7 linked regions of the Homo sapiens genome follow. The protein of the gene in region 2 purifies or fractionates together with the protein of the main gene of each other region. This does not show direct contact. Each region holds a gene or a part of one and is shown on either strand. Other genes may lie near its edges.

Region 1 (3,500 bases), on a different chromosome or scaffold from region 2:
CACTGTCTAGGCTCAGTGGTAGGCTCCCCAAAGTGCCCAGGGAGGCCCAGAGTGAAAAAGAAGCTCTGTCCTTACCAGTGTCTCCACCACTACAGGTACCAGGCTGCCTAGGAAGCCAGGTGGTGCCTTTAAGATCTCCATGGAGAAACGCACAGCTCGACGCAGGATCCGACGAAGAACCAGCCTAAAGGGGTTCAGAGCCCAGACATGAATCCCCAGCGGCTCATGGTCAGCAATATGGGGAGTGGGAAGGACGAGGTCCAGTGTGTGCTCCCACCTCAAAGCTCTCCCTCTCCCCATTCCTCCTACTGGCTCAACCAGACCCACCTCTCCTGTTCCCTCCCTCCTCCACCTGAGACCCCCAGCAGCCCCTGTCCTCTCTGTAGCCCTTCCAGACTCACGGGGGACCTGACATCCCAGGGAAGATGCCATCAGAGATGCAGACACTGAGTGTGCGGATGTGGTCAGCCACCACGCGGTACGCTGTGTCTGTGCGCCCCTCGTCTGCCACCCCTACTCGGCCCAAGTAAGGGGGTGCCCTGCAGCCCTGGGAAGCAGAAGAGTCAGCCAGTGGCCCTGCCTGACCTGGCCCAGGTGGGTGCTCTTTATCGCCTCTAGAGCATCTGCCCTCAGCCCTAAAGCCAACCACATCCAGAATGGCCTTGCCAGTCCAGTCCTGGGCTGAGAAGCCTCACAGATGAGCACAAGCCAGGCCCTGCCCTCACGGGGCTCATATTTGGTGCTACAAGTGAACATATCTGTGACCATTTACTGAATTTCTACTATCAGAACTGGGTGAGTACTTGAACAACATGGCCTCGAATCCCCAAAACAGCCCATTCCAGGAGGTATTAGCATGCTTGCTTTAAAGAAGAAGAAGCTGAGGCTCAGAGGAACTCAGTGACACAAGGCTACCCAGCTCTCAAGGAGCAGATCTGAGATCTCAGCCGGGCCTGTTGGACTCCAGGTGCTCTCCACTACCTGTTCTTGCCTCTCCCATCTTTTGTGGGGGTGGGCAGGGAGGGAGAGTGTAAGCTACATACACGGAAATGCTCCAAAGCAGGGAGCTTGATTCACTTACCACCAAACCTCTCTCTTCCCCAAGCTTCTTCGTCTAACAGTCATGCCATTCACTGTGTTGCTCAAGTCAATAGCCTGGGAGCCATCTTTGAATTCTTTTTCCCCTACCCGTCATGATCCATCAGTGGTTCCTTTTGCTCCTACCTCCATGACATCTCTCAAATCAATCTACTTGTCTCTACTTCCACTGCTATTATCCGAAGCATGCCCTGTGGTCCTTGCCTGGACCGATAATAGCCTCCCAACTGATTCCTAAGTTTCTGCTCTCATCTCCCTCCAGCTCATCCTCCACACAGCAACAGGAGTAGCCTTTTAAAAGTGTACATCAGGCTGGGCGCGGTGGCTCACACCTGTAATCTCAACACTTTGGGAGGCTGAGGCGGGTGGATCACCTGAGGTCAGGAGTTTGAGACCAGCCTGGCCAATCCTGGTGAAACCCCATCTGTACTAAAAATACAAAAATTAGTCAGGTGTGTTGGCGGGTGCCTGTAATCCCAGCTACTCTGGAGGCTGAGGCACGAGAATTGCTTGAGCCCCGGAGGCAGAGGTTGCAGTGAGCCGAGATCATGCCACTGCACTCCAGCCTGGACAACAGAGCAAGCAAGACTCTGTCTCAAAAAAAAAAAAGAAGGGTTCTCAGTGGGGAGTGTGGCATGATCTGATGTACACTTTTATTTATTTATTTTTTTTGAGATGAACTCTCACTCTGTTGCCCAGGTTAGAGTGCAGTAGCACGATCTCAGCTTACTGCAACCTCCACCTCCTGGGTTCAAGAGATTCTCCTGCCTCAGCCTCCCAAGTGGCTGGGACTACAGGTGTGTGCCACCATGCCTGGCTGATTTTTCTATTTTTTTAGTAGAGACAGGATTTTGCCATGTTGGCCAGGCTGGTCTCCAACTCCTGACCTCAAGCGATCCGCCCCCCTCTGCCTCCCCAAGTGCTGGGATTACAGGAGTGAGCCACCGTGCCCAGCCCTGAGAACTCTTCTCACCACTCTGAGAATCAAGGCCCCACTTTGGACTTTGAGGCCCACAAGACTGGATTCTGCCTTCTTCTCTGTGAGACTGTTCACAAAAATGGCCCTTTCCTAGGCATATGCCACTTTAAAATGGGACTTTACAGCTGTTTCCCATCAAGGGACAGAATCCATTTCTCCATCCCCTGAATCTCTGCTGGCTTTGTGACTTGCTTTGGCCCATAGAATACAGTGGAAACAACACTGTTCTGAGCCTATGTGTCTGCTCTCTGTCTTGGAACCTTGCTGAGCTGTGATGTGGACAAGCCCAGACTAGCCAGCTAGGTGATGACAGACACATGGTCCAGTCACCCCTACTGCCCCCAAACTGACAGCCAGCCAAGCCCCAGAGGAGCTGCGGCCTCTCAGCTCACCACAGATGGATGAATGAGCTCACACAAGACCAAAGAATGAGCCAGCTAAGCCCAGCCTAAACGCTAGCTCACAGACTCAGGGGGCAGATACATGGTTGTTGGTTAAGCCACAGAGCATTAGGGTGGTTATACAGCAAAAGCCAACTGACACATGTTCCTACTATATCCCATGGGATTCTCCTTTAGCTGGCTGGCCACCTTTTAGTTTTTGGCACATGTCAAGCCCTTTCTTGCGGGGCAAGGAGGGAGGGTATAAGCTACACACATGTGGAAATGCTCCAAAGCAGGGAGCTTGATTCACCTAGCTCCAAACCTCTCTCTTCCCCAAGCTTCTTCATCTCAGTAAACAGTCATGCCATTCACTGTGTTGCTCAAGCCAATAGCCTGGGAGCCATCTTTGATTTCTCTTTCCCCTCCCCATCTAATCCATCAGTACCAAGGCCCTTGGTACCTGCTGTCCCCTCTGCCTGGAAAGAACTTCCTGTAGCTGACTCCTCCTTTGGGGCTCAGCTCAAAGGTCATCTTCTTGGTGAGCCTTCCCCAAGCACCTTATCTAAGATTCCTCTGTACCCCTCCTTCTTCCTAGTTACTTTCACCCATGTTTACTGCCTGTTCACAATCTGTAAGCTATTACCTTGTTCTTTAACACATTTATTGATTGTCTATCTCTCATGCTAGCATATAATCTCCATGATCTCTTTCCTGCTTACTGCTGTGTCTTCTGTACCAAACACAAAGGATTTAACATAAAGTAAGCACTCAACACGTATTTTCTAAATAAATGAAAGAGGCAAGGAGTTAGGAGGAACATCAGGTAATAAGTAATGAATCCTAGTGTCTTGCTTGACGTCTTGGAATTCTTGGTTGGTTATTGTCCTCAGATGCTGAGAACACTCTGAGTTCTCAACAAAGATGGAATGCAATGGGGCTGAGGGCTGTGAAGAGCAGGTTAGAGGGCTTCTGGAAGGGAAGAGGCACTCACCTGCTGTATGGCGTTGAGCAGCGGGGAAAAGAGGTCAGTGTCATAGGTG
Region 2 (2,315 bases):
AAAAAAAAAAAAACCTGCCTTCAGTGTTTAGTCATGTGTTTCCTCCTTTCCTATTTTTCTCTCTTCCTGAGTCTTTAGTGTTCAGTATCTGCACTGCCAGCACTCACATCATTCAGTATTTCTTTGACATTTTTCTTCAATCTAGTCTAAAATGTCACTATTGCGTTCTTCACCTCTACTCAATTCTATTAATCCATTTTTTTTACTTTTTCCAATTATCATATTTTTCCCACCTAATATTTCCTACCTTTTTCTCATATTTTATGTATGTTAGTCTTGCTCAATATTCCTAATATGTTCTCTTATTTTTCAGCATGCTTATTAACTTCTAATTCAGTATAAAATCAATCAGGTTTCTTTCAAACAATTCATCATTGCAGAGATAACTCCATGGGTTACTCAATCACAAAACCAAACCAGTCCCACAGGTGCATTCACTATCCCCCGTCTTTCCCTGACCCCCTGTACATTACTAAATGTCCACTTACAATTACACAGTATAAGGTCTGAAAACAAGATTCAGTTTTATTTGCTGCCCCAGTATCTGTAACCAGGAGTGCCACAAAATCTTGCCAGATATGTCCCACACCCACTGGGAAAGGCTCCCACCTGGCTACTTCCTCTATCAGCTGGGTCAGCTGCATTCCACAAGGTTCTCAGCCTAATGAGTTTCACTACCTGCCAGTCTCAAAACTTAGTAAAGCAAGACCATGACATTCCCCCACGGAAATCAGAGTTTGCCCCACCGTCTTGTTACTATAAAGCCTGCCTCTAACAGTCCTTGCTTCTTCACACCAATCCCGAGCGCATCCCCCATGTCATCCTGCATGGTGTGCAGCGTCCTCCTGCTCTGGGCTGTGAATCTCTATGGCTAAGAAACTGTTGATCTCATATCTCCGGTGCTATGTGTGGGGTGTTCAACCATCTTCATAACCCCAGGGTGGTAATCCCTCCCTCACCAATGGTGTGAAAAGAAGGCAAATAAAACAATGATTGAATGCTCTTTGGGCTCAGTATCATTCCTCAATGTGCCCCTATTTCTGGATTCTTCTTTGTAGGGATAGCCCCATAGACCACCTGATCACAAGACCAAACCAAATCCCCAGGGGGGCTTCCTCATCCTCTCCCTTTCCCTCATCCCCTGTACAATAAAAGGTTGACTCAGCAGCCCTGCACTGCTCAAAGCCTGTACATCCCAAGTAAAGGGCTCACCCTTGAATAACTCCTGGGAGATGACATTTGATTCCTTGGCATGTTCTGCCCAAGTGCCTTGATATACTTGGGGCCTTGGGCCATGCCAGACCCTTCATGCTAAAGATGGGATTTGTGATGAATCCCTGTTTTTGTACATCTGGGACTCTGGACCATGCTGTATCTGTTTGAACTCTAGGGAACCTCAGGTCTGAGGACTTCAGGTCAATTATTCAAGTACTCCATACTCGTCCTACAGACCCCCAGTAAAAACCCTGGACACTAAGGATCAGGTGAGCTTCCTCAGTTGGAATTACTTTGTACATATTATCATACATCCTTGCAGGGAGAATTATATGCTGTCCGTAAGTCTCCACTTGGAGAGAATAACTGTCAGATATGCCCCCCATCCAAAGGGAAAGGCCCCCACCTGGCTAGTTCCTCTATCAGCTGGATCAGCTACACTCCACAAGGTCCTCAGCCTAATAGGTTTGACTTCCTGCCAGTCTGAAAACTTAGTAAAGCCAAGTTGCCAGTCTTCGTAACTGCAAGTTTTCCTCTGTTTTCTCCACACTCTAATCTATACATCTGTTTTGTTTGCTGATTTCAGTATGTATCCTATCAATGTAACAAACCATAATAAACCACAGCATGATAGCTCTTTATTTCTGTAAGTCCTGCTAGGAAATCATCAAATCTGACGGTGGTTTGGGGGACCTGAACAAACCTCCTGTAATTAATCAGCTTTCAGTTTCTCCCCCTAGTCCCTCCTTCAACAACATAGGAGGATCCTCCCCTTCTTTCTGCTCACGGCCTTATCTAGGCTTCCCAGTGCCCCCAGGACAGCGTGGGCTATGTTTACAGCGTCATCCTTGCTGTGTGTGTGCCTCATGCATTGTGGCTCCAGCTTATCCTCAGTGATCTGTAGAGAGTGTCCACCTTGTGTCACTGTCCACTCTTCCAGGGTGGGCCCCACCCCTCCCATCTCTGCACCCCACAAACAACATGGTCACCCACGTCTTTGTGTGTGTCCTCACTGAAACTGAGCGAGAAGTCTTCAGAGACAGCCAGTGTTCCGAAGGAGAGGACGAAATTATACCCATTTCAGAAACATTGGCATACAC
Region 3 (3,500 bases), on a different chromosome or scaffold from region 2:
TAAGGTCAGGCTGCACGGCAGGGCACCCATCAGGTGCAGGTGGTCGGAAAGATACCACCCCCCAGGTAAAGCCGTGGCTCCCACCATCAGGAGAAGTCAGACTTTCAGGAAGAGAGAGCTCCCTCAACCGCCATGCTGCTGTCCCCGTCCTTCCTGCCACTGGTCACCTGGAGAGGGGATGAGGGTGAAGTAAAGGCCAGAATGAATGAAAGGCTGCACTTGGTGTGTCACCTGGGCGACAGAGCAAGACTCCATCTCAAAAAAAAAAAAATTGTTTACCTTTAAAGTTATTTCATCTTTTTAGACTGCAGTGATGTAAATACAGATTAAAGGAAGAGTAATGGTCATCATTAAAGGCCCCCAGCCTGAACTGCGCCCTTTGCTTTCAGCTCGCAGATTCACTGGTGCCCATGGAGATCAAGCCTGGCATCTCCTTGGCAACTGTCTCGGCCGTGCTGCACACCAAAGATAACAAGCACTTGCTTCAGGTAGGGGGTGCTGGGTGGGAGTGCAGGGGACCCTCTCCCCAGCAAGAAACCAGACCACCTAACAGATTATATTTGAAATAGCGCTTCATGTGAATTCTTGTTGAAGAATTATTTCCCTGGCCATGTGCCTCAGAGAGGCTGCTGTGCCCAGAGATGAGGCCGCACGTCATCCCAAGGGCTGCCACAGGCACATTCTGTTGGGGAGCGCTGCCACGCGAGGCAGGGCTGTGGGGAGACGTGCAGGGTGGCAGGTGCAGCCCTGCCCTTGGGGGCTGGAACCGGAGGGCACCTGCGTGAGGCTGTGGCTACCTGAGAGCCTGGTCCTACCAATGACCCACACACAGGTGGGTGGCACTTCAGCTCCAGGGCAGGCACTGTGTCTTAAGAATTCCTTTCAGATCTGGACTGTGTCACCTTTATGCCACATGTAGAGTTGCTCCTAGCTACCACTTAAAGTCTATTAGACCCTGTGCTGGGTCCTTGACCCGCCTTGTCTTACTGAGCCGTCAGAATTCACTGCTGTCATCATTTCGTAGGCAGCTTCTCTAACCTTGGCCAGATGGTGGCAAAGGTGGGGTTTCCCCCTTTGGTCTGACCCCACAGCCAGTGTGCCCAGCCACGGGGTCATGATGTACCTGCAGCACGACACAGTGTATTCTGGAGAATTTACTCAGCAGATACTGAAGTGAACCACCTGAAAATTTAAAAATGGATCTTGATAGAAGGCAGAGATCTTAGCGAATAAGGTGTTGGTAGGCTGGACAGTTGAGCATTAGAGCGCGTGGATCTGGGGCTCCCGGCAGCCAGGGAACCTGAACCGAGTGCCGGCTGAGGAAACCGGGCCGGGGCTCTGTGGCCTGTGAGGACAGGATAGTCTCAGGCTCTCAGTGTGGCCTGCGGTGGCCCCTGCTGCTCAGAGGAAGCTCATGAAAGCCACTCTTTCCTTCTGCTCTAGCCCCCTCCTCGGCCCGCCCAGCCCACGAGCGGGAAGAAGAGAAAGCGGGTGAGCGATGACGTACCAGACTGCAAAGTCCTGAAGCCTTTGTTGAGCGGTTCCATCCCTGTGGAGCAGTTCGTGCAGACCCTGGAGAAGGTGAGCTGGTTTCGCTGGTGCCGTGAAAACTCCACACGTGGCAGCCTTTCCCTGGCTCACTATGGCCCCCTGGCTGCAGGGAGTGGATGTTGCTGCTTGTCACTTAGTCCCCACTGTCCTGTGGCATCTGTTTGGTCTAAGGTCCTGCTGGGAGACCCAGGAGAAAGAAAGCAGAGTGAGGAGTGCCCCATCCTTCCTCCCAGCACGAGGTCACCAGAAGGCCTCTCCAGACTGAAGAAAAAGCTGCTTCCACACACACATGTGACGAGTGGGGCAGGGTAGTGAGGCCAGGACAAAGAGGGACCCGGCCCTGCCAGAGTCTTGCACTTCCACAGATGACTCCTTGCTGTCAGAGGGGAGCCAAGTCTCCAGTCGACTGTCAGGATTTGCAGGAGGCAGTCGGGGGAGGGGACACTGGCCCTTCCCCTCTGTCTCAGCAGCCCTGATGGCTGCTTCTCCCAGAGATGAGATTTCTTGACTATGATTAAAAGAAAAAAATCTAACCTTAAAGGTTGTAATTTTGGCTTCAGTCACAGGACTTCAGAGATGACTTTATTAGGATTATAGAATCTTTGATAGGAAGAAGGAATTGGCTAAAGGTAATACTGTTCATGCTGCTGCTTGCAAGAACTGCAACAAATTACAATCATTACAAGGAAGGAGATTTCTATGAACTTTCTATCCAATGTAAATATCACAGTTGCCGACTTTCAAATCTTAAAGGCTTTCCCTTTCCTAGGATTGGTTTTCTCCACCTGTCTTTGATTTTCCCGTAGGGAAAAAGGCTCTGGCTGGGTGGTTGCGGCTCTCTTCCACCCTCCCTGAAGACCTTGCAGGGCTCCTGGGCCCTGTTAATGGGCCTCAAGCTGGACTTTTAAAAACTTAAGATGAGGACCTTCTGCCTGGCCCAGCCTATGTCCTGACCCAGTGTTCCACCCCGGCTCCTCTCTGCAGAAGGAGCAAGCACCTGTCCAAGTCCCTAGGGGAGCCTGCAGCCATGAAGTACAGGTGGCCTCCCCACACCGAGGCCCTTCACCTGCTGTGTGTCTGTTTCAGGCACATGCCTCCTTTCCATGTCACGTCTGATTTGTAAGGAATTTCTGTCCTTAGCATTAGCAATAGCTGAGAAGTTTGCACTGCTGCCTTCTCTCCTTCACTCTTGAGAGGGCTCTGCCAAGTCCCACAGGGGTATCTTGGTGTCACCTGGCATTTTCCTGGGAGCTCAGACAGCTGAAACTTAGGAGGGAGCTGTCACCAGGGAACGGCATGGTGCAAGCAGCTGAGCGTCCCAGACTCCTGAACACAGTGCTTGGACGTGCCCTCAAAGAACTCACAAAAGCTTAGCCAGGTTGTGGAAATTCTGTTGTTTTGCATGAGCTTTTGCATGTTTAGGGTCTCTTTTCAAGTATAAGAAACTATCACTATCATAGGCCTATGACTAGTCTGAAGAATTGTGTTGAGACGTGTCAGTTTCTAGAAAGTTCAGTCGAGTCTGTGAAGTGTCATTTACAGATCTCACAGATGTGCAGTCTGCCCAGCCCACCTCTTTCTTTTCTTCTGGAGCAGCATGGCTTCAGTGATATTAAGGTGGAGGACACAGCCAAGGGCCATATCGTCCTGCTCCAGGAGGCTGAGACGCTCATCCAGATTGAAGAAGACTCGACCCATATCATCTGCGACAATGACGAGATGCTCAGAGTGCGACTGCGGGACCTTGTCCTCAAATTCTTACAGAAGTTCTGAGTGGGCCATCTGAGCTACTTCCCTGAAATCCTGCAGTCCCTCACTGGCTGCCCTCACAAGCCACCTGAGGAGTGGCATGAGAGGCCATTAACTGTGTCTTTGTGGTGTCCTCTGGCTTAAGGAGTGAAGAGGTGGCTCTTGAGGGAAATGGTCTGGACTTATTCCCAGCACTGTTT
Region 4 (3,500 bases), on a different chromosome or scaffold from region 2:
TTTCCACCCCACTAATGACTAAACTTGGGACTGTAGTTTCTGTGTCCTTCTGTTTTGCCCCTGCACGTGGCAATGCGAGACCGCTGCTCCTCTCCCCTCCACCTGCCTCGGTCTGGGCCCTTCCCTCACCTCCCTGCCTATAGTCTTGCCTCCTGGGTCCATCTTCCTCATTGCAGATGGGTGCTCTGAGTCACCAACCAGACCTTCAGTCTCCACCTTCCTCAGTCTACCACGGGTCTCTCGCACCCCACACACCCCACCTGCCGGCTCCCATTTCAGGCAAGTGCTCTGGGCCCTCTCAGCTGCCAAGCGAGCCCTTGTGCCCTGGACCATCTCGGCACAGAACATGCCGTGTCACATACGCTTACTGATCCATTTTTCTGAAAGTAACCTTGAGGGTCTTTCACATGAAAACCACCAGCTGGGCGCTCTAGGAGAGGGGTGATGTTTGAGACGCCCCCTGCCTAGGACCCATTTCCCTGTTCTGTTCCTGGTGAAACCCTTCTTACCCTTCCAGGCTTGGCTTAGATGTCACCTTAACGGTAACTCTTCCTAGTGCCCAGAGAGGGCAGAGGGCACTGGGTGACAGAGCCCCTGAAGGCCCACCCCCGGCCATGCCATCTCGAGTGTCCCCTGCTCACCTGTAGCGTGTCCCCAAAGGAGAGCTTGTGGATGACATGCGTCATGTCTGGGTTCTGTGGCTGGGCTGTGGCACTGTGTGTGGACACGTGGAAGTTGCCGGGGACCTGGGGGAGAAATGTGAGTTTCAGGAGTTTGGTTGACTTCTCCAGGGGGCGGAACATTGGGGCCTCACCCTGTGTGATCCAGGGAGGACACTGGAATCAGGCAGATCTGGGTTTGGATCCTGCTTGTATCATTTTCAACTGTGCAAAGGAGTCACCCCATCTCTCTGGGCCTCAGGCTCCTCATCTGCAGAATGGGGGCACTACCATAGCTTCCGAGGGGGCTGCCAGGACTATCTGGTGAGAGGGTGCATGTGAAGTGCCCATCTGGGCGACGGGCACAAAGCCAGGACTCATGGCAGCTGCTCCCCCTCCAGCTCTGTGGATTCTGGGCGGCTGACCCCACAGTCAGCTGGGGGATGACCTTTGAGCTTGCAGACTAATGGGGATTCCTCAGACTCCAAACCCCTATCATTTCCTACCCAAGTTTGCCCCAGTGCCCTAGACGGGGGATCCCTGATGGACAGACTGTGGTAGCCTCATCTCTTCCCTGGGTCTCAAGCCCTCGCAGAGCCAAGCCAGCAAGAGGTGCTGGATGAGTATTTACAGAACAAAGGATGCTGGTGACAACCATGTGGCAGGAGCCACTGCAGCTTCTCCTTGTTTCAGCACGAAGTCCCTCCTCCTCCCCCTCCTCCCCCTCCTCCTCCCAGATGCTTAGACTAGAACCCTTAGTATGATCCTGGAACCCTCCTCCTCCTCCCAGATGCTCAGACTAGAACCCTTGGTATGATCCTGGAACCCTCCTCCCTCCTCCCAGATGCTCAGACTAGAACCCTTGGTATGATCCTGGAACCCTCCTCCTCCTCCTCCTCCCAGATGCTCAGACTAGAACCCTTGGTATGATCCTGGAACCCTCCTCCTCCTCCTCCTCCCAGATGCTCAGACTAGAACCCTTGGTATGATCCTGGAACCCTCCTCCTCCTCCTCCTCCTAGATGCTCAGACTAGAACCCTTGGTATGATCCTGGAACCCCCCTTTCTCACTCCCGACGTCCCATCCATCAGCTGAAACCCTGTTAGCTCCACCTTCCAAACACACCTGGCGCCTGACCTCTTCTCTGCTGCCCTGGTCCAAGGTCGTCTCTTCATGGACAACAATGGCAGGCTCCTCCCTGGGCTCCCAGCTTCCATGTTCCCCACAGCCTGGGCCTTTTCCCAATAATGACTGTTAAGATCTTTTTAAACCCTACATCAGATCTCATCACTCCTCTGCCCAGAACCCTCCACGGCTTCTATTCTCTCAGAGTCCAGGTCCATGTCCTCGTGGTGGCCCACAGGCCACATCTGGCCGCTGGCCAAGCATCGTGTCCCCACCGCTTGGCCTCCTGCTGCTGTGTCCTCTGCTGCTTCCTGTCTGGTCTCCTGCCGTGCCGGGAACAGCATCCAGTGTGGCCCCATTTTAGGCCTTTGTGCCTGCACCCCTTCCTGGGACCCTCTTCCACATGGCCCTCCCTCGGACCCTCAGGGCCCAACAGAGAGGCCCTCCACGTCCACCTGTGCAAAAGAGCACCCTGGCCCCCATTCCCCATCCCCTTACCTGCTACAGCCTCTGGGATCACCTGCCATCTCATACCCATCCTGTTCTCGTCTGCCTCCTCCCATTAGCATGTCCACGCCCTGCTGTGCTCCCCAGACTCCGACACATAGCAGGTGCTCAATAGACACTTTTTGAATGAATGAATGACTAAACAAACAACACTGAATCCTTTGACTTTGTCATCTGATAATTCCCATTTTACAGAAAAGAAAATGGAGGCTCAGAGCAGTGAAGAAACTTGCTAAGGTCACATGTCGAGAGCTGCAGTCTCAGCTCACGTCTGTTGGACGCACTGCTCCCTCCTCTGATGCCTGGATGCCATCTACCTCCGCAGCCTGGGCTGATGGCCACATGGCGCCAGTCCTTCAGGAGATGCCGGAACTGGGGAGATGAGCAGACAAGAATCTGGCCTTGGCCAAGCCCCTGTGACACAGACTTGGAACAGACAATGAGACTCTGTGGGATCCACCCTGGCCCAGAGGAATTTGCAGACCATGGGGGTTACAGGGAAGGCCCCCGGCTCAATTGAGGGTGCAGGCTGTATTCAGGGAGGGCTTCCCAGGGGGAAGGACATCCTGTGTTAAGGCTCTGAAGATGAGTCTGCATTACTCAGGAAGAGAGCGAAAGGCATCTGGGCAGAGGGAACAGCATGAACAGGTGCAGAGGACAGAAACTTCCCAGCATGTGGGCTGTCTAAGGAACTAAGAGTCTGGTATTATTGAACTCCAAATGAGACGGAGGTGGCGGTGCTGGCAGCAGCAGGAAACAAAGAGGCACAAGGGAGGAGTTGGGGCTGTTTATCAAAGGTCCCCAGATGCCACACTGAAAAACTCGGGGGTTACCTTATTCCAGCCCAATGAAGAAGACTGTGCGAGCTGTGTCCGAGGAGGGAATATAGCTTATCGTGCAGCAGCCCATCAAAGTCTGATTTTGTAAGCATGTCTGTTTCAAACACAAAGTTGGGGACTTCCTGCAGGAATATTCCTACTTCAGCAGGGCCCGAGCTTGTGGCTGACAGGGGAGGCATCAAGCTGACAGCCTGTAGCCTCGGCCTCAGCAAACTCGCAGTGGAGCGAGCTGCAGGCTACAGTGGAGAAGGGACACTTGCTGGGTCAGGAGTGGAGCAGAAACAAAGGCGTGGCAAGATCTCCCTCGAGGGACAGCATCGCCTGCTTCAGGGACCCAATAACCCATAGTAGAGCGGTTGCTCTGAGTTCT
Region 5 (3,500 bases), on a different chromosome or scaffold from region 2:
TCAGTGCTGAGTTCAGAAGAGACTCCTCAGTGGGCTGGGGAGTCCAGAGGAGTCATGGAGAAGTAGGGCTGGAGCTAAAATCTTAAAGGATGAACCCAAATCATCAAGGAAGAGGCGGCCTTGGGGAGGGGCAAGCCAGCTTCAGCCTATCTCCTCTAAGATCTGCCTCCATTTTCCTATCCTCAATTCCAACTTGCAATCTTAACTGGACATGGTTTGATTACTCTCAAAATGAATTTCCCCAAAATCCTGATTCTATCAGATTGCCCCATCAGCAATAAAGCGTGCCCTGCTTTCCACTGCCCTGAGAAGTCGGTCAGACTCCTCAAGTTTACTTCCAAGGTTCCCGACAACCTGGCACCACCCTTCCTGTTCTTTCCTTCCTCTCCCTATCCCATTCCCAACCTCCTACTTCCCCTGCTTAGGAGCTTAGCCATCTCCTGGGGCTCCGCTGTACCCCTCCAAGAAGCCACAGGCAACTCCTGCCCCAGGGATACTCCAAGCCCTCCCCTCCACACCTGTGGCGCCCTCCTGTGAGCTTACCGGCCTTCAATCACATGCCATCGCACACGCTCCACACCTGTGACGCCCTCCTGTGAGCTTACCGGCCTTCGATCACACGCCATCGCACACGCTCCACACCTGTGGCACACTCCTGTGAGCTTACAGGCCTTCGATCACACGCCATCGCACACGCTCCACACCTGTGGCGCCCTCCTGTGAGCTTACCGGCCTTCAATCACACGTCATCGCACACGCCCCACACCTGTGACGCCCTCCTGTGAGCTTACCGGCCTTCGATCACACGCCATCGCACACGCTCCACACCTGTGGCACACTCCTGTGAGCTTACAGGCCTTCGATCACACGTCATCGCACACGCCCCACACCTGTGACGCCCTCCTGTGAGCTTACCGGCCTTCAATCACACATCATCGCACACGCCCCACACCTGTGACGCCCTCCTGTGAGCTTACCGGCCTTCAATCACACGTCATCGCACACGCCCCACACCTGTGACGCCCTCCTGTGAGCTTACCGGCCTTCGATCACACGCCATCGCACACGCCCCACACCTGTGACGCCCTCCTGTGAGCTTACCGGCCTTCGATCACACGCCATCGCACACGCCCCACACCTGTGACGCCCTCCTGTGAGCTTACCGGCCTTCGATCACACGCCATCGCACACGCCCCACACCTGTGACGCCCTCCTGTGAGCTTACCGGCATTCGATCACACGCCATCGCACACGCCCCACACCTGTGACGCCCTCCTGTGAGCTTACCGGCCTTCGATCACACGTCATCGCACACGCCCCACACCTGTGACGCCCTCCTGTGAGCTTACCGGCCTTCGATCACACGCCATCGCACACGCCCCACACCTGTGACGCCCTCCTGTGAGCTTACCGGCCTTCGATCACACGCCATCGCACACGCCCCACACCTGTGACGCCCTCCTGTGAGCTTACCGGCCTTCGATCACACGCCATCGCACACGCCCCACACCTGTGACGCACTCCTGTGAGCTTACAGGCCTTCGATCACACGCCATCGCACACGCCCCACACCTGTGGCGCACTCCTGTGAGCTTACCGGCCTTCGATCACATGCCATCGCACACGCCCCACACCTGCGACGCCCTCCTGTGAGCTTACCGGCCTTCACATGCCATCGCACACGCTCCACACCTGTGGCACACTCCTGTGAGCTTACCGGCCTTCGATCACACGCCATCGCACACGCCCCACACCTGTGGCACACTCCTGTGAGCTTACCGGCCTTCGATCACACGCCATCGCACACGCCCCACACCTGTGGCGCCCTCCTGTGAGCTTACCGGCCTTCAATCACACGCCATCGCACACGCCCCACACCTGTGGCACACTCCTGTGAGCTCACAGGCCTTCGATCACATGCCATCGCACACGCTCCACACCTGTGGCGCCCTCCTGTGAGCTTACCGGCCTTCGATCACACGCCATCACACACGCCCCACACCTGTGACGCCCTCCTGTGAGCTTACCGGCCTTCGATCACACGCCATCGCACACGCTCCTTTACTGCTCATGGTGTTATTCTTGCCTCCAGCACAAGCCCTTGATTGATTCATAAGTCCTACGCCCTCATCCTGGTCCTCGTCCCATTCAGAGTGTGCGGCAGACCGCTGGTACACAGGACGTGCTCAGCACAACAGTTGCTTAAAACGGGCCAGGTATTATTCCGCAGGCTCCCAGAGACAGGCTCCCGGTAGCTGCTTCACTACCACTGGCTAATAAACTGACTGGGCACCCCAAGGAAGAGGCTAGAGCAGGGGTTCCCAAACCCAGTTACAGAACCACTAAGAGAGGTGTTTTGTTTTTTAAAAAATACAGATTCCTGAGTTTTACCCGAGACCTAGTGAATTAAGGCTCCAGCGCAGATACCCTGGGATCTGTATTTTAAGCTCCCCAGAGGATTCTGATGCAGGGGTATGAGAACTGGCTTTTGGAAACCACCAGACATGAGGACTGACCACAGTCGGGAGCTGTCCTCCCTCCCCTGAGCCCACAACATCGCCTGTGTACCCCAGCACCCAGCACTCCTCACTACAGTCCCCACTCAGCTAAGGGAGGAAACACCTCAGCCCTGCCCCTTCCCTTCAGCCAGAGTTAAGACCAAAAGGATACCCCTGGGCATTTTCCATCACGGGCCCCTGTCCAGACACCAGCATCCGCTTCTCATGGTACTCGGAGAAGAGCTTCATGGGGCTGTGAGAGAGGATAACTTGGTCTGCATCCACCTGTAGGGACAGCCAAGACAGGGGAGGGCAGAGGAAGACAGAACTGTTGAGGGAAATAATGAGACAGGTGGCAGGTCCTTTAGCCTAGGGAAGGAAAAAACCCGCTCAGAAAAAGAACGGGGAGGAAAGCCCTTTCTAGCACCCAGCAGCACTTCTGAAAGGCACCCAAACAGATCTGAGAAGAACCTGTCTCATTTAGTTCTTGCCACACAAGAGACCAGAAATGCCACAGATGTGGGTTCTGACCACTTGCCACCGCTACCCCGTCAGGTTCAGTTTGGATTTCCCAAGCCCCCACTTGGAAGCCATAGGGTTCATGTGTGCTCCCTGTCACTGTCGCAGAAACTGGTCTTTTACTTTCTATTTTCATTCCTGCTAAGAGTTAGCTGCTTAACATTTATACTAACCCTAACAATGCAGCCTTTACTTGGAAGGTTTTTGGAATTCTCTCTGGAAATCACAGCAAGGAACCAATTTGATTCCGTCACATTTTACATGCAACTTTGAGCAGCATCATCTAATCAATCAGCTATTTTATTTACTCTCCTGGTTCCAAAGGACTCTTTCCAAAAGCTGAATTCACCCTCAACAAACAAGAATGCATCAAAGTTGGGATATGGTGCAGGGCTGCAGGTGGCTGAGGAGGACAGCACTCCTTCAGGTGCACACATCATACCCAGGAAAGCCAAGGTGTGACGCCAGAGCCACACCTGCTAT
Region 6 (3,500 bases), on a different chromosome or scaffold from region 2:
AAAAATTAGCCGGGTACTGTGCATGCACCTGTAGTCCCACCTACACTCAGGAGGCTGAAGCAGGAAGATCCCTTGAGCCCAGGAGTTCAAGGTTGCAGTGATCTATGATAAGCTCCTGCACTCCAGCTTGGGCAGCAGAATAAGACCCTGTCTCAGATAGGTAGGTAGGTAGATAGATACATATATACATACATACATACATAGTTACATAGATCCATCTCTGTGTATGGCTGTAGGTTCTAGGGTCTAGATTAGAGTGGGGCTCCTTTAATGATCTCAGTAGAGGATCTGGTGCTTAAATACTTCTTTTTTTTGAAGCGGAGTTTTGCTTTTGTTGCCCAGGCTGGAGTGCAATGGCACGATCTCGTCTTACCTCAACCTTCACCTCCCAGGTTCAAGTGATTCTCCTGCCTCAGCCTCCCGAGTAGCTGGGATTACAGGCATGCGCCACCATGCCCAGCTAATTTTGTATTTTTAGTAGAGACGGGGTTTCTCCATGTTAGTCAGGCTGGTCTCGAACTCCCGACCTCAGGTGATCCACCCACCTCGTCCTCCCAAAGTGCTGGGATTATAGGCGCGAGCCACTGCGACCGGCCTTAAATACTTCTTAAAATGAAGATTTTGTTTCTGTTAGAAAATTGGCAACAGTGGGGAAATATGGCCTTCTCTTCTGAAATTTTAGTTACATGTTGTTTGTGGTAACAGTAACCAAAGAATCAAAACAAAGGATTATACTGAATTACTTCCTGTGCTGTTGCTTAGTAATTGATAACAGAAGTACATTGTGAAACAAGATCACTGTAGAACATTTAACTGACTTCCAGTAAATATCCTTTGGATCAGAATCTCCAGGGACCTCATCTTAGCCCTTTCTTTTTTTTTTTTTTTTTGAGACGAAGTCTCACTCTGTTGCCCAGGCTGGAGTTCAAGTTCAGTGGTGTTCAAGTGATTCTCCTGCCTCAGCCTCCTAAGTAGCTGGGACTACTGGCATGTGCCACCATGCCCGGTTAATTTTTTGTATTTTTAGTAGAGACGGGGTTTCATCGTGTTAGCCAGGATGGTCTCAATCTCCTGACCTTGTGATCTGCCCGCCTCAGGCCTCCCAAAGTTCTTTTTTTTTTTTTTTTTTTTGAGATGGAGTCTTGCTCTGTCACTCAGGCTGGAGGGCAGTGGCGTGATCTCGGCTCACTGCAACCTCCACCTCCCAGATTCAAGTGATTCTACCACCTCAGCCTCCTGAGTAGCTGGGACTACAGGTGTGTGCCACCATGCCCGGCTAATTTTTGTATTTTTAGTAGAGACAGGGTTTCACTATGTTGGCCAGGGTGGTCTTGAACTCCCGACCTCATGATCTGCCTGCCTCAGCCTCCCAAAGTGCTGGGATTACAGGCGTGAGCCACTGTCCCCGGCATGACTCTTTCATAACCACATTTCAGCCCTCTCAGTCCTCTCAAAGTCCCCTTTACTACTTGTTTCTTGTACATAATAGTTGCTTACTATTTGACCTGAATGGAATTTGTTCTAATACAGTCTTTCTTTTCAAGGGAGCCATGTGCATGTTTGTGGACCCAAGTGCTATTGATTCATTCAGTGAATATTTTTGGAAAGCTCACTATGTACTAGGAATTCTTCCATGAATTTGGGGCACATGAGTGAACAAAACAGACAAAGGAACACTATATTGCAGTGTTCCAGAAGGAACACTATATTGCACGTCTCTGTGCCCCACCTCATAACTCAAATTCTGTAGGACTCCTTAGAGCTGTATTGTTCTGTATAATAACAACTAGCTTCACGTTTAAATTAATTAGAAGTAAATTAAGTAAAAAATTCCTCAGTTACACTAGCCATATTTCAAGTACTTAGTAGTCACTATGGCTAACGGCTACTGTGTTGGACAGAGCAGATATAGAACATTTCCATCATCGCAGAAAGTTCTACTAGACAGTGCTGCCTTACAGGTTGCCAGTGGGATTAGCCCTACCCACCACTCCATCCAGTTGCTCACAGTAGTACCAATGCAATCAACTTGTTAATGGACCTTTGTACTGTTTTTACCTAATTTCCTATTTTACCCTCCCTAGACCCCCCAATCCCTGTGCCCAGAGTTCACCCCAAGATTAATTACTTGCAAGCTCTTATCCTGGACCCTGCTTTCTAGGGAGAATCCAGCTTAGACAAGCACTCCTAGTAGGCCCTCAATTTTATGAACAACCATTGATTTATAAAGGTTTTTTTAACAAGTAAGAAACAGGCCAGGCGTGGTGGCTCAGGCCTTTAATCCCAGCACTTTGGGAGGCCGAGGCGGGCGGATCACGAGGTCAGGAGATCGAGACCATCCTGGCTAACATGGTGAAACCCTGTCTCTACTAAAAATACAAAAACAAAAAAGAAATTAGCTGGGCATGGTGGCGGGCGGCTGTAGTCCCAGCTACTCGGGAGGCTGAGGCGGGAGAATGGCGTGAACCCGGGAGGTGGAGCTTGCAGTGAGCCGAGATCACGTCACTGCACTCCAGCCTGGGCAACAGAGTAAGACTCCATTTCAAAAAAAAAAAGAAGTTAGATAGAAACATTGTCACGTTAAATATACATGTCAATTGTAAGAAGCATTAAATTTCAGAAATGTTGGAACACAGGAATAAAATTCTTTCATAATCTAGATATCCTGGCCCATGACTTCTTTAAATCTTTATTTAATGCCATGTCCTTTGCTAAACAAAACAACCCCCTGGTTTTGGGTGGTTTTATATACTCTAATCAGTGATTTTGGTTTTGTTTTGTTTTGTTTTTGAGTTGGAGTTTTGCTCTTGTTGCCCAGGCTGGAGTGCAATGGCGCCATCTCGGCTCACCGCAATCTCCGCCTCCCGGGTTCAAGCAATTCTCCTGCCTCAGCCTCCCGAGTAGCTGGGATTACAGGCATGCGCCACCACCACGCCTGGCTAATTTTGTATTTTTAGAAGAGACGGGGTTTCTCCATGTTAGTCAGGCTTGTCTCGAGCTCCCAACCTCAGGTGATCCACCCACCTCGGCCTCCCAAAGTGCTGGGATTACAGGTGTGAGCCACTGCGCCCGGCCGATTTTGGGGTTTTAAGCGATGAATACCAAATGTCAGTTTAGGAAAATATTAAGTGGTCACGGGGTTAGTTTAGGTTTGATATTTTATGCTATGACTCCGGTTTTGCTCAACTATGTGACTCCCCTTAAACTAAGTCCACCTATAAGTACTTCTGAAAGCCTGGCTTTACACTGTGCTTGTTATGTCAAACTGATGAGGAGGATAGGGGAATAGGAAAACACGAAATTTGCTGCTTTAATTTATCAGCTGTAATAATGCTTCTGTGTATCCCAAGATATTATTCTTAAGTGTTCTTATTACCATGGGTTCAGTGTGTACCATAGAGGCCAATGTAGTGCCTCTGACTCCCAGTCTATGTATGACTTGTAGAAAGATACTTTTTTTTCAATCTGGTTATCTAGTAGATCAGTAAAACCCTTTGCCT
Region 7 (3,500 bases), on a different chromosome or scaffold from region 2:
GTGACAGCGTGGCAAGGTGGCCTCAAGAAGAGCCACCACTCTCAGGGGCAAAGAGGCCTTGGAGTGGCCTCTTCCAGCCTCTGGAAAGCTCTGTGGCCTCTGGCAGGTGAGAGCCCAGTCCTGCTTGCATACCTCCAGAGCAGGGAGCTCATTCCCTCTCACCAGGCAGCCCTGCCATACGCCTGAGAAGCTCAGACTGTGGCCAAGTTCTTCCTTTCACATCTGACCTGGAGGCCACCCAGGCCCTCCTGGTCTCACCAGCCTCGGTCCCTTCTGCACAGGCCACACTCCCTCCTGCCTCACAGCTTCAATCCACGTTCATTCCACTGCTTGGACACCGTCCCCTTTGCCTGGTTAATAATGCCCCCGTAGGTCTTGGCTAGAACAGCGCTTCCTCCAGGAATCCTTTCCTGATCCTTCTGCTGGATACACAGGCTCGCAGCTGCCTGCACTCCTTCAGAGCTCTCAGCCTATCCAGAACTAATCTGTGTCAAGTAGCATTTGTTTAAGGAATGGATTAATCTTCTGGATACACTGTTGGGGGAAGAGACCACATTCATTTCATTCACATTTGTATCCCCAGCACCTAATATGGTGCCTGGCGCACAGTGGGTGCTCAAAACGTTATTATTGAATGGTAAGAAAAGAAAAATGCAGGGCTAAAATCACAGCACCTCACTCAATACCTGACAGAGAAATGCATGCTACAGCAATAACTGATTTAACCCTCCAAACAGCCCCCCAGAGTGAGGGTTATCATTACCTCCCTTTTGCAGAGGAACCTGAAGATCAGAGAGGGTGAGTGACGTATGCAAGGTCACACAGTTAAGAGTGCAGGGTCTGGGTTTGAGGGCGGCAGCCAGCTCTAGGGCCCATGCTTGTGGCCTCCCCATGAATGAAGAAGCTGCTGCTGGGCCCAGCCAGCCTGCCCCATGCCAGCCCAACAGCTCCAGGAGGACTTCCTCCAGCCAAGCCCTTGATATGACTCCAGAAGGGGTTCCACACCCCTGCCTGCCATTCCTGCCACCTCCCACAGACACTCGGGGGAAGCGGGAAGGGGGGCAATCCATGGGCATCCTATGGGGAAGAAAGGGCCCCACGTCTGCTTCTGGCCCAAGGGAGAGGAGGGAACAGTGGCTGCCAAAGAGATACACTCACATCCTAACCCCCACAACCTGTGGCTGTGACCTTATTTGGAAAAAGGGTCCTTGCAGATGTGGTTAAGGTTCCCCACATGAGATCATCCTGGAGGATCCAGTGGGCCCTAAATCCAATGACAAGTGTCCTTATGAGACAATGAAGAGGAGAGAGACACAGAGAAGGCTGTGTGAAGACAGAGGCTGGGATTGGTGTGCTGCCGCTGTTGGGACACGGAAGAGGCAAGAGAAGCTTCTCCCTGGAGCCCCCCGGGAGAAAGTGGTCCTGCCGACACTGATTCAGGCTTCTGGCCTCCAGGACTGCAGAGAATCAACTTGTTCCAACCGAGGGGGTGGTAATTTGTCACAGCAGTGCTAGGAAACTAACTTAGGGGGCAAGATCTTCTCAGTCCCTGCCTGGACTGGGGTCTCTGTGATCCTCTGCCAGTGTCCCTCTTGGTCTCTGATATTAGCCTGCTCCGGGAGGTCCCTGAGGCACTGATGTGGAGTACAGGGGGCTCCAGGGCTCCACTGAAGAGGTCTCACCTGGTTGGAAAGGAACAGGCTCTTCCTACAGAGGAGCTGTCCTCTCCCTGGCCACAGGCTGCCCAGGCCGGGTCAGCACACATGACCGACCAGGCCCCTCACTTCTGCTGCTGCCACCCTTGCCAGAGGATGTCCCCCACACAAACCCTTTCTCCACACCCAGCCCACCAGCTCTGATCTGTTGCAATGGCAGCAACTCAGACATATGCAAGGTCACACAGTTTGGGTGTATGCAAAGTCACACAGTAGCCCCCCAACTTTTCACTTCCAAAAGCATCTGCACATCCTTCAACTCATTGGAGTCTCACAGCAACCTGTGAGAAGGACAGGGACAGGGTTATGTGCCCATTTTACAGACAAGAACGACAAAGCTCATAGAAGAAAGTGGCTTCCCAAGATCCCACGAGAACCGGTAAGGGGTGAAAGCTGAGTTCACCCCAAGCTCTGCGTCCTGGCACCATGTTGCATGGACCCACCACATTGCATCATCTCTGCGCTGAGCTCCAGACCTCACACCATGGGCACCTCAAACTTAACACAGTCCAACTAGAACCCTTCATTCTCTCCTCAGGCCAGGTGCATCTAGAGTCTTCCCCGACTGAATTGCCACCTGCAAGTCCCTGCTAGAATGCAGACCGTTTTCCATGGCCGCTCCTCCTCCCTCCCTTCCATAGCCAGGCCACACCAGGCAGAGGGAACAGTGGAAAGAAAGGCCTAGAGGGAAGACACAAAGTGGCCCAGGCAGGGAGCCCCAGGAAGCCAAACGGAGCTGGAGGCAGGTGGAGCAGCAAAACAGGAAGGTAGGCAGAGGCATCCCAGACAGGGTTGTGTCTATCCCATTAAAGGATCTGGTCCAGTCTGCAGGGCACTGGGAGTTATAGAGGCCTGGGGGCCCTAGGTAGAGTCACCATCAGATGAACCCTCCTTCCAAGGTAAGTGCAGCCTGCTGGGCCATTCCAAATGGTGAGAAAAGGAAAACAAGAGAAAAGAAGGAAAAGAGGATCATTTAAGGCAAGACTTTTGCATTTGTGGGGCAACAGGAAGGCAGGCAGTGGGGGCTGCAGGGGATGGGGATGGGACAGAAAAAAAGGGGTCAGTGGAGGTGCTGAGTCCCAAAGCCCCCCGAGAAGTGGAAACCACCAGCAGGGAGGCCAGGCCAGGGCAGAGCAAATGGATTCAGCTCAGATGGGGTGGGGCAGGGCACAGATGGGGGTCTTACCGGGGGGCTGGTATTCATCCGCCCGGTACCGTGGAGGGGTAATCCGCTCCAGGTTCCACGGGATGCTCTGGGCAAAGACAGAGGAGTCCTCCTCGATGTAGTCGACATGGGGCAACTTCAAGGCCTGCAGAAGCCAGAGAGGCCGGGGGACTCTGCTTAAGCCATTTGGACAGCAGCAAACACAGCCACAGCCTGGCCTTACCTGATCAAACCTGTCCCCACATCCCAGCCCAGCAGCCTCCCACCTTGTCCCTGCTAGTGCCCCGGAGGACAGACTAGGAGCCTGAGTTTTCTCGCTCCTTGATCAGGCTGGGAGCCCAGCACTCCCATATCCCTGCAACACGGTCTGGCATAGAGGATTCCTTTTAGGAAGGATTCTGAACTTGACATCTTGTCTGGGAGCCAGGCTGTGCCAAGGCTCTGGGCAGGATGGACATGGAGTGAAGCTCAGGCCCTGGACTCCATGCCTAAATCATGACATAACAGCACTGGCAATTCGGTTTGTCCCCTAGTCTATTCTCCAGCCTTCTCCAGCCTGCTCAGTGCAAACTGCAGCACCAGCTCCCTTGCAAAGCTTCCAGTTGGGCTCAGCCAATGGG

What was found.
Region 1: the proteins of KLK2 (region 2) and AARS2 purify together in Homo sapiens (co-immunoprecipitation; one large-scale study listed by IntAct). This does not show direct contact.
Region 3: the proteins of KLK2 (region 2) and INTS9 purify together in Homo sapiens (co-immunoprecipitation; one large-scale study listed by IntAct). This does not show direct contact.
Region 4: the proteins of KLK2 (region 2) and ERGIC1 purify together in Homo sapiens (affinity purification with mass spectrometry; one large-scale study listed by BioGRID and IntAct). This does not show direct contact.
Region 5: the proteins of KLK2 (region 2) and HDHD5 purify together in Homo sapiens (co-immunoprecipitation; one large-scale study listed by IntAct). This does not show direct contact.
Region 6: the proteins of KLK2 (region 2) and SAMHD1 purify together in Homo sapiens (co-immunoprecipitation; one large-scale study listed by IntAct). This does not show direct contact.
Region 7: the proteins of KLK2 (region 2) and PCSK9 purify together in Homo sapiens (affinity purification with mass spectrometry; one large-scale study listed by BioGRID and IntAct). This does not show direct contact.

What each region holds. Positions count from the first base shown.
Region 1 is NC_000006.12:44,306,848-44,310,347, forward strand, and holds part of AARS2 (alanine--tRNA ligase, mitochondrial), read right to left. Parts: coding exon 3,452-3,500; intron 595-3,451; exon of another isoform or gene 548-594; coding exon 402-547; exon of another isoform or gene 387-401; intron 229-386; exon of another isoform or gene 185-228; coding exon 76-184; intron 1-75. UniProt on the Homo sapiens protein: Catalyzes the attachment of alanine to tRNA(Ala) in a two-step reaction: alanine is first activated by ATP to form Ala-AMP and then transferred to the acceptor end of tRNA(Ala). Also edits incorrectly charged tRNA(Ala) via its editing domain.
Region 2 is NC_000019.10:50,878,753-50,881,067, reverse strand, and holds the end of KLK2 (kallikrein-2 isoform 1 preproprotein), read right to left. Parts: 3' UTR 501-2,315; downstream 1-500. UniProt on the Homo sapiens protein: Glandular kallikreins cleave Met-Lys and Arg-Ser bonds in kininogen to release Lys-bradykinin.
Region 3 is NC_000008.11:28,767,970-28,771,469, reverse strand, and holds part of INTS9 (integrator complex subunit 9), read left to right. Parts: intron 1-389; coding exon 390-488; intron 489-1,443; coding exon 1,444-1,581; intron 1,582-1,722; coding exon of another isoform or gene 1,723-1,863; exon of another isoform or gene 1,864-3,093; coding exon of another isoform or gene 3,094-3,147; coding exon 3,148-3,324; 3' UTR 3,325-3,500. UniProt on the Homo sapiens protein: Component of the integrator complex, a multiprotein complex that terminates RNA polymerase II (Pol II) transcription in the promoter-proximal region of genes.
Region 4 is NC_000005.10:172,921,251-172,924,750, reverse strand, and holds part of ERGIC1 (endoplasmic reticulum-Golgi intermediate compartment protein 1), read right to left. Parts: exon of another isoform or gene 3,225-3,500; coding exon of another isoform or gene 3,126-3,224; exon of another isoform or gene 2,664-3,125; coding exon of another isoform or gene 2,648-2,663; exon of another isoform or gene 2,449-2,647; intron 747-2,448; coding exon 642-746; intron 1-641. UniProt on the Homo sapiens protein: Possible role in transport between endoplasmic reticulum and Golgi.
Region 5 is NC_000022.11:17,145,778-17,149,277, forward strand, and holds part of HDHD5 (haloacid dehalogenase-like hydrolase domain-containing 5 isoform 2 precursor), read right to left. Parts: intron 2,784-3,500; coding exon 2,671-2,783; intron 1-2,670.
Region 6 is NC_000020.11:36,941,709-36,945,208, reverse strand, and holds part of SAMHD1 (deoxynucleoside triphosphate triphosphohydrolase SAMHD1), read left to right. Parts: intron 1-3,500.
Region 7 is NC_000001.11:55,046,048-55,049,547, reverse strand, and holds part of PCSK9 (proprotein convertase subtilisin/kexin type 9 isoform 1 preproprotein), read right to left. Parts: intron 3,026-3,500; coding exon 2,902-3,025; intron 1-2,901.